Linked DNA regions of Homo sapiens. The protein of the gene in region 1 purifies or fractionates together with the protein of each later gene. This does not show direct contact. Each region holds a gene or a part of one and is shown on either strand. Other genes may lie near its edges.

Region 1 (4,261 bases):
TTGCATTACACTCCACCTTCCTGAAACTCTAAAAGTGCCTAACTCTCCAAGCCTTAAAAACTTATTTTCATTCTCACCGAATTTCCGGAGTCAAACGGGACTGAATGGGTTTTTTTGTTTGTTTGTTTTGTTTTTGTTTTTTTGTGGGGGGGACGGAGTCTCACTCTGCGATCTAGACTCACTGCAACTTCCGCCTCCCGGGTTCAAGCAATTCTCCTGTCTCAGCCTCCTGAGTAGCTGGGACTACAGGCGTCTGCCACCATGCTCGGCTAATTTTTGTATTTTTAGTAGAGACGAGGTTTCACCTTGTTGGTCAGGCTGGTCTCGAACTCCTGACCTCAGGTGATCCACCCGCCTCTGCCTCCCGAAGTGCTGGGATTACAGGCGTGAGCCACCGCGCCCGGCCCTGAATAGGTTTTCAATGGGAGAGAGGTGGAGGAAACAGAGTGGAAATTACGATGAGTGCTAAAGGACAGATCACCCCAAGCTGTATTCACAGCCCAGGCCTGAAGGAAGCCTGGGTTCCCAGTCCATCCTGGTCTCTCCTCCCTCCTGTCATATCCAAAGCTCAAGGCCCTCACCCCAAACGGTTAAGTCACCCCAGGCCTTTAAGACTTTTCCTGCCTGCCCACTCTCCGTCCGACCCCCAGTTCTGTCCCTGCACTCCTTCAACCTCTGCACTTCATCACTCCACCGCCCTCCCGACCCCCTCCACCGAGCAGAAGGACGTGAACTAACTCACCTCCCAGTCGGTGCCTCTGAGATCTCCGAGACTGGGGGGGCGGGGGGCGGGCGAGGGGAGATGGCTTGCTGTTTAGGGATGAGGGGACCCCATCCTTTGCCAGGGGGTTCCAGCCCCAGCCTGGCACCCTTTCCTGGCCCCCACAACACGCAGAGCCCAGCTCTCCCCCCATCGCTGCTGCGGGCTTTGTCTTCTCTGCCGAGAACCTCTCCCCGCGGCCGGGCTCCGGGATCGACTCTGGGAGAGCGGGAGGGGGAAGCGGAGAGTGAGCGCGGCAGGGAGCGGGGAGAGGGGAGCGAGAGAGAAAGCCGCAGTGAGCGAGCGGGGACGGCTCCCGGCTCCCCGCCCCCGGCCCCGGCCCCCCCTCCTCATTTCCATAAAAAAGCGGGCCCCCAGGACCGGCCGGCGCGGGGCAGGAGCGGGTCCTGGGAGGGGGCGCGCGGCGTTAGCCAGCTTCATACCCGCTCTGTTTCCGCATACTACCCCTTCTCCCCGCACCCTCCCCTTAAAAAATTAGGGACCTCGACTTCCATCCCACTCCTAGCTTGCCCCGGAGCTGCGAGGAAAGACCGAAGGCCACATCCCTATCCTCCTCGGGTCAAGGAATTTGTCCCCGCGCCCCCAAGGGCGGGAAACTACAACTCCCGGCATGCCCCGGGCGCCCCCGGCGCGCCCCCCTCCCGTCAGTTTCATGCTGCTCCATCCAGTTCATTTAAAACAAAAGAGTTTGAGCGCTGGAAGGGGCTGGGCTCTATTGGGGGCCACTGAGCGCCGCTCCCGGACTGGGGCTCGGTGCGGGAGCCTAACGGGGGCGCCTGGACAGCGGGGGCTAGAGACTCCCAGGTCCGAGGCGGGAGGGGTGGGGGCAGAGATCCTGCAGCCCCCCGCCCCCCGTCACCCCCGGAGAGGAGAGGAGATCTGCTTTCTTGGTTTTGCTTCTCTTTCCCCCCACCCCCACCCCGGGGGCTGGGGCGAGGGGAGTCGGGTTACAGGGTGTTTGGGGAGGGGGGCTTAGGGGGAGGGTCTATCTTTCTATCTCGCTTTCTTCCCCCCTCCCCAGTTCTTTGTTCCCCCCTCCCCACACACCCCCTCCTCTCCTCTCCCCTCCCCTCCTCTCTCCTCTTTTCCCTTCCACCACCTCTCTCTCTCTCTCTCCCTCTCTCTCTCCCCCAGCTTTTGTTTCGCCATGCCTAGTCTAGTGGTATCTGGAATAATGGAAAGAAATGGGGGCTTTGGAGAACTAGGATGTTTCGGGGGAAGCGCTAAGGACCGAGGGCTGCTGGAAGACGAGCGCGCCCTTCAGCTGGCTCTCGATCAACTCTGCCTCCTGGGTTTGGGGGAGCCCCCCGCCCCCACGGCGGGCGAGGACGGGGGAGGTGGGGGGGGCGGCGCCCCCGCGCAGCCGGCCGCCCCCCCGCAGCCGGCCCCGCCGCCGCCGCCCGCGGCGCCCCCGGCCGCCCCGACGGCGGCCCCCGCAGCGCAGACGCCCCAGCCCCCCACCGCCCCCAAAGGGGCGAGCGACGCCAAGCTCTGCGCTCTCTACAAAGAGGCCGAGCTGCGCCTGAAGGGCAGCAGCAACACCACGGAGTGTGTTCCCGTGCCCACCTCCGAGCACGTGGCCGAGATCGTGGGCAGGCAAGGTAAGCGGGGCGCCGGGACCACTGAGAGGGACTGTAGTGGGGGCACCCTCGTCCCTAGCGCGGAAAGTTCATTTCTTCCCTTCTTGCCCGCCTCCGGCTCTGTCCCTTCCCCACAAAGGGGGACCCGCCCCCTACCCTGATTTCAAAGTGCCACAAAGTTCCCCGTTACCCCTAGTCGGGACGGTTCTCCAGATCCTTCCTCCCCCAGGACTCTGCCTTTAGACAAAGAAATATCCTCGCACTGGAAGAGGGAAAGGGGAGGGGATCGGTCTCCCAATCCAGGGAGGCTGTCCTGAGGGGGTGTCCACTCCTAACCAGAAAAACTGACGGAATGTGCAAAGAGTTACTCAGAAGCCTGTACTCTGGTATCTGCTCCTAGGCTGGGGAGGGGGCATCCCTGGGGCCCCCAGCCGCCTGGAGTTACAGACTTTGGGGGAGACCTGGCCCTCGAAGCCAGACTGAGTATCTGTCTCTTTGTTGGGCTGAGTGTAGGAATGGAAGGGGGTGTGGCCCAGGGGAGGGTCCCAGCCTGGGGAAGAGGCGGTGAGGGGGGCTGCTGAGAGGAGGGGGTCCTGTGGTCACCCACACCCCAAAGTTGGATTGTCTCTGGGGTTTTGGAAGGGGTGTCTCCAAGGAAGTGCTACGTCCTGGCTTGGACCTCTCCTCTTCCCTCTCTGGCTTTTGTTCTGGGCTGGCCACGGCCTTGGGCCAGAGGCCTAGAGAGGGGTCTCTGGTAGTGAAAGAGTAGGACAGGGTAGGAGGGGGAATGCTGGGGGGTAAGAAACCTTCACCTGGAAATTTGGTGGAGGGCGTGTGTCTGGGTGTGTTGGGAGGGGGTGCAGAATTAATCCAGCGTAGTATGTCTGGTACCACACCCTCTGCTGCTCCAGCATCCCTGGGTGGGTGAGTGGGGGTGTTGGTGAAGGTCCAAATTGAGCAGACGGGATCTTGGGGACCCTTCCCTCTCCTGGCTTCTCAAAGGAGAGTGTGGGGGGCAGGATTTGGAAATTGCAAAGAGGCTGGGCTGGGGAGGTGTGGGGTGGGGGAGGAGCTGTCCCACAGTGGGGAACAATAGAGGAGCTGCATTCCGGCTGGGAGTGCGGGAGGAGGCCAGCTTCTGGCAGAGGAAAAGGGGAGGCGGGCCAGGGGGGCCCCTACTCCACATCCCACCTTATCCACTGGGAGTGCTGGGGGTTAGGGGGATTTCACGGAGAGATCCAGAATGGAGGAGGGGAAGATGCCACTCCCCTGCACAGCCCTCATCCCCCTGGGGCACTCCATCTCTTGAGATTTCTGATTTAGAAAGTTGGATTTCCTCTTGTCAGAAACTGGGGATCCAAAGCCCTGGAATTGGGTGGGGACGGACATTGCTATCTTTTCTTGGGTGTGGGGGTGGTCTTGGGAGGCCCCGGAATTTAATGGAGTCATTCTTTCCTCTTCTGCCTCCGCATCAGATGGGCTTGTCCCTCATAAAAGTAAGGGGATTTTTATTCACAAAAGATAAGCCTGCCCCTCAGTCAAGTATATGGAAGTCCTCCCTCTTGTCTAACCTCCCTCCTCCTGCTGCAGTGTTAGTGCTCCTCTGTTTGACCTCTAGGAAGGTGAAGCCCAGTGGGTCTTCCCTTCAAGAGATGCTTCTTTGGGGTTGCAGAACCCAGGAAGAGACCCACCACCAGCTTTGCACCTCCAGGCCTCTAGCGTTTCTTCTTACTCGATGCCTTGGCCTGTCCTCCTCACCCCAACCCCAACCGCTAAAGATACCTAGCTCTCATTTAAGTTTTTGGACCCAAAACTTACGGCCAGAACCCAGGTGCCCATCAAACGATATGTGAGTAGAAATGGTAGGAGAGGGGAGTTCACTGTTTTGTGACCCTCCATA
Region 2 (4,018 bases), about 18 Mb from region 1:
AATAAAACAATTAATGAATTGAGCACTCATACAGATCTTTTCTTTTGGCCTCCAGGTCCCTGAGCAGCAGCCTATTACTTTGTGTAGTGGGGTTGAAGACACAAAGCATTATGAGGAAGCCAAGAAATGTGTAGAAGAATTAGCATTGTACTTAAAACCGCTCAGCAGTGCTAGAGGTAAGTTTGTTTTTGTTTCTTATTTAAAGAGTAAAACTGCTTTTTTAAATACTCAGTACATAATCCTATATAAGTCCTGAGGAATTCCCAAAAAACCTAACTAGAGGTAAATTTGATGCAATTATCCATACTAAGTAAATGTCTACTAAAGAGACTTGTTACCATAAAAATTGTGAGCTATTAAGCAAATGTTAATGAAATTTATCTATTGTAAACTAAACTCATTTTGTGCTAAATATCATGACACAAACCACATCAAATAAAATAGTGAATTTTTAGTTTATGTGATGATGGAAACATTATTCGAATGATGATAATAGCAAATATAACTACTTACTTCAGCAGTGCTTTCCATCATTTGACAATTCTGAATGGTTTGCCTTCTATCCAGTTTTATATGCTATGCTATAGGCGGTATAATGAATACGGAAGTTGCCATTACTGCACAGAAAGGGCTTGCTATTTAATTAGGAAAATAAGGTTAACCACTGTCAAATAATATACCAGAACTCTTAGGACTTCAAGATTTACATTATAAACTAATTATCAATGTTGTCTAGTCCTTTTTTCTTTCTTCCTCTATGATTAAAATGAGTAATGGTATATTTAATGTCATAATGAATGCTAAGTGCACATGAGATAACTCATGTATACATTTGTATACTTTAAAAATGTATACTTAAGTAAGCTTTACATGTGTGGTTTTATTTGTTGCTTATTTTAAATACTCTAGTAGTCCCAGAACTAGTCACATACCCACAAGTTAACCCAACAGAAGAATTGCTCCTGGACTGTAAAATTGCATTGTGAACCTAGGAATAACTTCTTTACTCTTTTAAAGGAGTGGGTCTGAACAGCACTACTCAGAGTGTTCTGAGTCGCCCAATGCAGAGGAAGCTTGTGACTCTAGTCCACTGTCAACTAGTAGAAGAAGAAGGCAGGATTCGTGCCATGAGGGCAGCTCGATCTTTAGGTGAACGAACAGTTACAGAGCTCATTCTCCAGCACCAGAATCCTCAGCAACTCTCTTCCAATCTTTGGGCAGCAGTAAGGGCTAGGGGATGCCAGTTCCTTGGACCAGGTACATAATTAACTTTAGGTATTTATTCTGCTGGTAATTCTAAAAGTATGATGTAGGAATTATAAGTGATGTACAAAGCCTAGTTCTTTGCAGTATTTTATTGTTACCAACTAATATCTTGTTTGATGTTCATGGCTTGGGCAATTCCATGTAACTTAGTGGACTTACTAGGTGAACTTAGTGAACTTAAAACTTTTCTCTTAATGCCAAAAGTTGTTTCTTTTTTTAATTTTTTGATTTTTCCTTTTTTTCACACCTGTAGCAGGAAGTTCATTCATTTTGATAGAAGTTTTTCTTAAATTTATTAATCACTTTATCTGTTTTCTTTATAAAATATATAGAATGTAATACAAAATTGCTCACAAAAATGGTGTAAAAGTGTGTTGCTGGTTAATCTTAACTGTATTGCCAGTTAATTGAATAGCTGCAGAAATGATTAAATATTCCCCTTCTAATAAATGGATTTATCTTATCTATGTACTTGATAAATTTTGGTTTTGCCCAACTTTCCCTAGCAATGCAGGAGGAAGCTTTAAAGTTGGTTCTGCTGGCCTTAGAAGATGGTTCTGCTTTGTCAAGAAAAGTATTGGTTCTGTTTGTGGTGCAAAGATTGGAGCCACGGTTTCCTCAAGCCTCTAAAACTAGCATTGGGCATGTTGTTCAGCTCCTTTATAGAGCCTCCTGTTTCAAGGTATGAACCTACATTAAAGCTCAGCTTGAAAGGAAATATTGTTCTTTCCCCAAAGTTAAGTAGTAAAACTTTGAGTTTAATAAAGTTGCCTGTATCTTTTCAGAAAATCTCAGCAATTTTTCTTTATTCTTTTAAAGAATGTAGATGGGGTCTTATTATAGTTAAATACTATTATATTGAATTTTTGTATGTTCAATATTGAACAACATAGATCAAGTCAAGGTTTATAGATTTTTGTATTTGAAGAGACTAAGAAACTATATCAATTTCTTACCAAGACTGTGCAGAATTGGTCTGAAGAGAGAGTTATTGAAGCACAAATAAATTTTATTTATTTATTTTTATTTTTTTGAGACAAAGTCTTGCTGTCGCCCAGGCTGGAGTGCAGTGCATGATCTCGGCTCACTGCAACCTCCACCTCCTGCGTTCAAGCGATTCTCCTGTCTCAGCCTCCCGAGTAGCTGGGATTATAGGCAGGGCCACTGCACCTGGCTACTTTTTGTATTTTTGGTAGAGACGGGGTTTCGCCATGTTGGCCAGGCTGGTCTCGAACTCCTGACCTCAGGTGATCTGCCCGCCTCAGCCTCCCAAAGTGCTGGGATTACAAGCGTGAGCCACCGCGCCCAGCCAAATAAATTTTATTCAGAGATTTTCTCCTAGTGTAATTCCACATATACAATAATGAAGTTCCATTTGCCATTTCAGTTTATATGGTAATGCTGGACATAGTCTCTTATCCCAAATTGAATAAGCACCGCCTCAAACATTGCTACTCACTATGTATCATTTATTGTACATCCAGTATTATTTTTCTGACTTTTTTTTTTGAGATGCAGTCTTGCTCTGTCGCCCAGGCTGGAGTGCAGTGGTGTAGTCTTGGCTCACTGCATCCTCTGCCTTCTGGGTCAAGCAATTCTCCTGCCTCCAGCCTTCTAATCATAATCATTATGATTATTCTAGTCTAGCATCTCACACTTTACACTTTCTGGTAGTAGCCCATCCCACAAAACTCCATGAAGAATTAAGCCAAGTACAAATTAAATCATTTTTAGAATTACACCAGCATCTGAAGCTCTACAGTCATCAGTCCCACCTAGCTCATTGTCAGGCAATCCCAAGAGTCATAATCCACATTTATGGAGAAGAAACATATTGTTTTTCAGAATATAGAATTGTATTAGTATTTTTTTCTTTTCAAAAATACATATACACACACATACACCTTAAACTGAATGTATATGTTAAAGTATGTCAAATCTTTGGATTTCATTCCAGCACATACAGATTGACTATACAAAAATCCAAAATCCAAAACTTTTTGAACACCAACATGATGCTCACATGCTCATTGGGGCATTTCAGATTTTCAGAGTAAGGATGCTCAAGTGGTTTAATGCAGATATTCTAAAATTTGAAAAAATCTGAAATCTGATAACACTTCTGGCCCAAGCATTTTGGGTAAGAGATTCTCAGCCTGTATTTATTCTTTCTGAAAGACCTATCCAGAAAATGTTGGCCTAAATCCAACTTGACTCAGAATGGGATGATAGCAATATACCTACCTCAACAAGTTAAGGAGAAAATATTTTGCAGGCAAATGGTATATTCATTTAATCTTGCTGTTGATGCTAAATTTGTTACATTAAAAATTATATGTTCATATAAAGCATAAACTCATTTTTTTGACTTCATTATGAGATTATTTGTGTCTTATTAGGTCACCAAACGTGATGAAGACTCTTCTTTGATGCAGCTGAAAGAAGAATTTAGAACCTATGAAGCTCTGCGGCGAGAACATGACTCCCAGATAGTGCAGATTGCTATGGAAGCAGGCTTACGAATTGCACCGGACCAGTGGTCCTCTTTGCTTTATGGAGACCAGTCTCACAAATCTCATATGCAGTCCATTATTGACAAGGTAGGACCTTTTTTGTTCCTTACTTCTTAGACTAATCTTGGCATTTTGGTAATTCATTTAACAAATGTATATTAAAGTGAATACTGTATAGCTTTTGTAAATTGTATTTATAGCCAGTGTCATGTCATAACCAATCACGTTATAATACCACT

Evidence for each region.
Region 2: the proteins of MEX3A (region 1) and RC3H1 purify together in Homo sapiens (affinity purification with mass spectrometry, with the first as the bait; one large-scale study listed by BioGRID). This does not show direct contact.

Annotation. Positions count from the first base shown.
Region 1 is NC_000001.11:156,079,666-156,083,926, reverse strand, and holds the start of MEX3A (RNA-binding protein MEX3A), read left to right. Parts: upstream 1-1,461; 5' UTR 1,462-1,928; coding exon 1,929-2,382; intron 2,383-4,261. UniProt on the Homo sapiens protein: RNA binding protein, may be involved in post-transcriptional regulatory mechanisms.
Region 2 is NC_000001.11:173,980,657-173,984,674, reverse strand, and holds part of RC3H1 (roquin-1), read left to right. Parts: intron 1-55; coding exon 56-176; intron 177-1,017; coding exon 1,018-1,257; intron 1,258-1,772; coding exon 1,773-1,948; intron 1,949-3,665; coding exon 3,666-3,866; intron 3,867-4,018. UniProt on the Homo sapiens protein: Post-transcriptional repressor of mRNAs containing a conserved stem loop motif, called constitutive decay element (CDE), which is often located in the 3'-UTR, as in HMGXB3, ICOS, IER3, NFKBID, NFKBIZ, PPP1R10, TNF, TNFRSF4 and in many more mRNAs.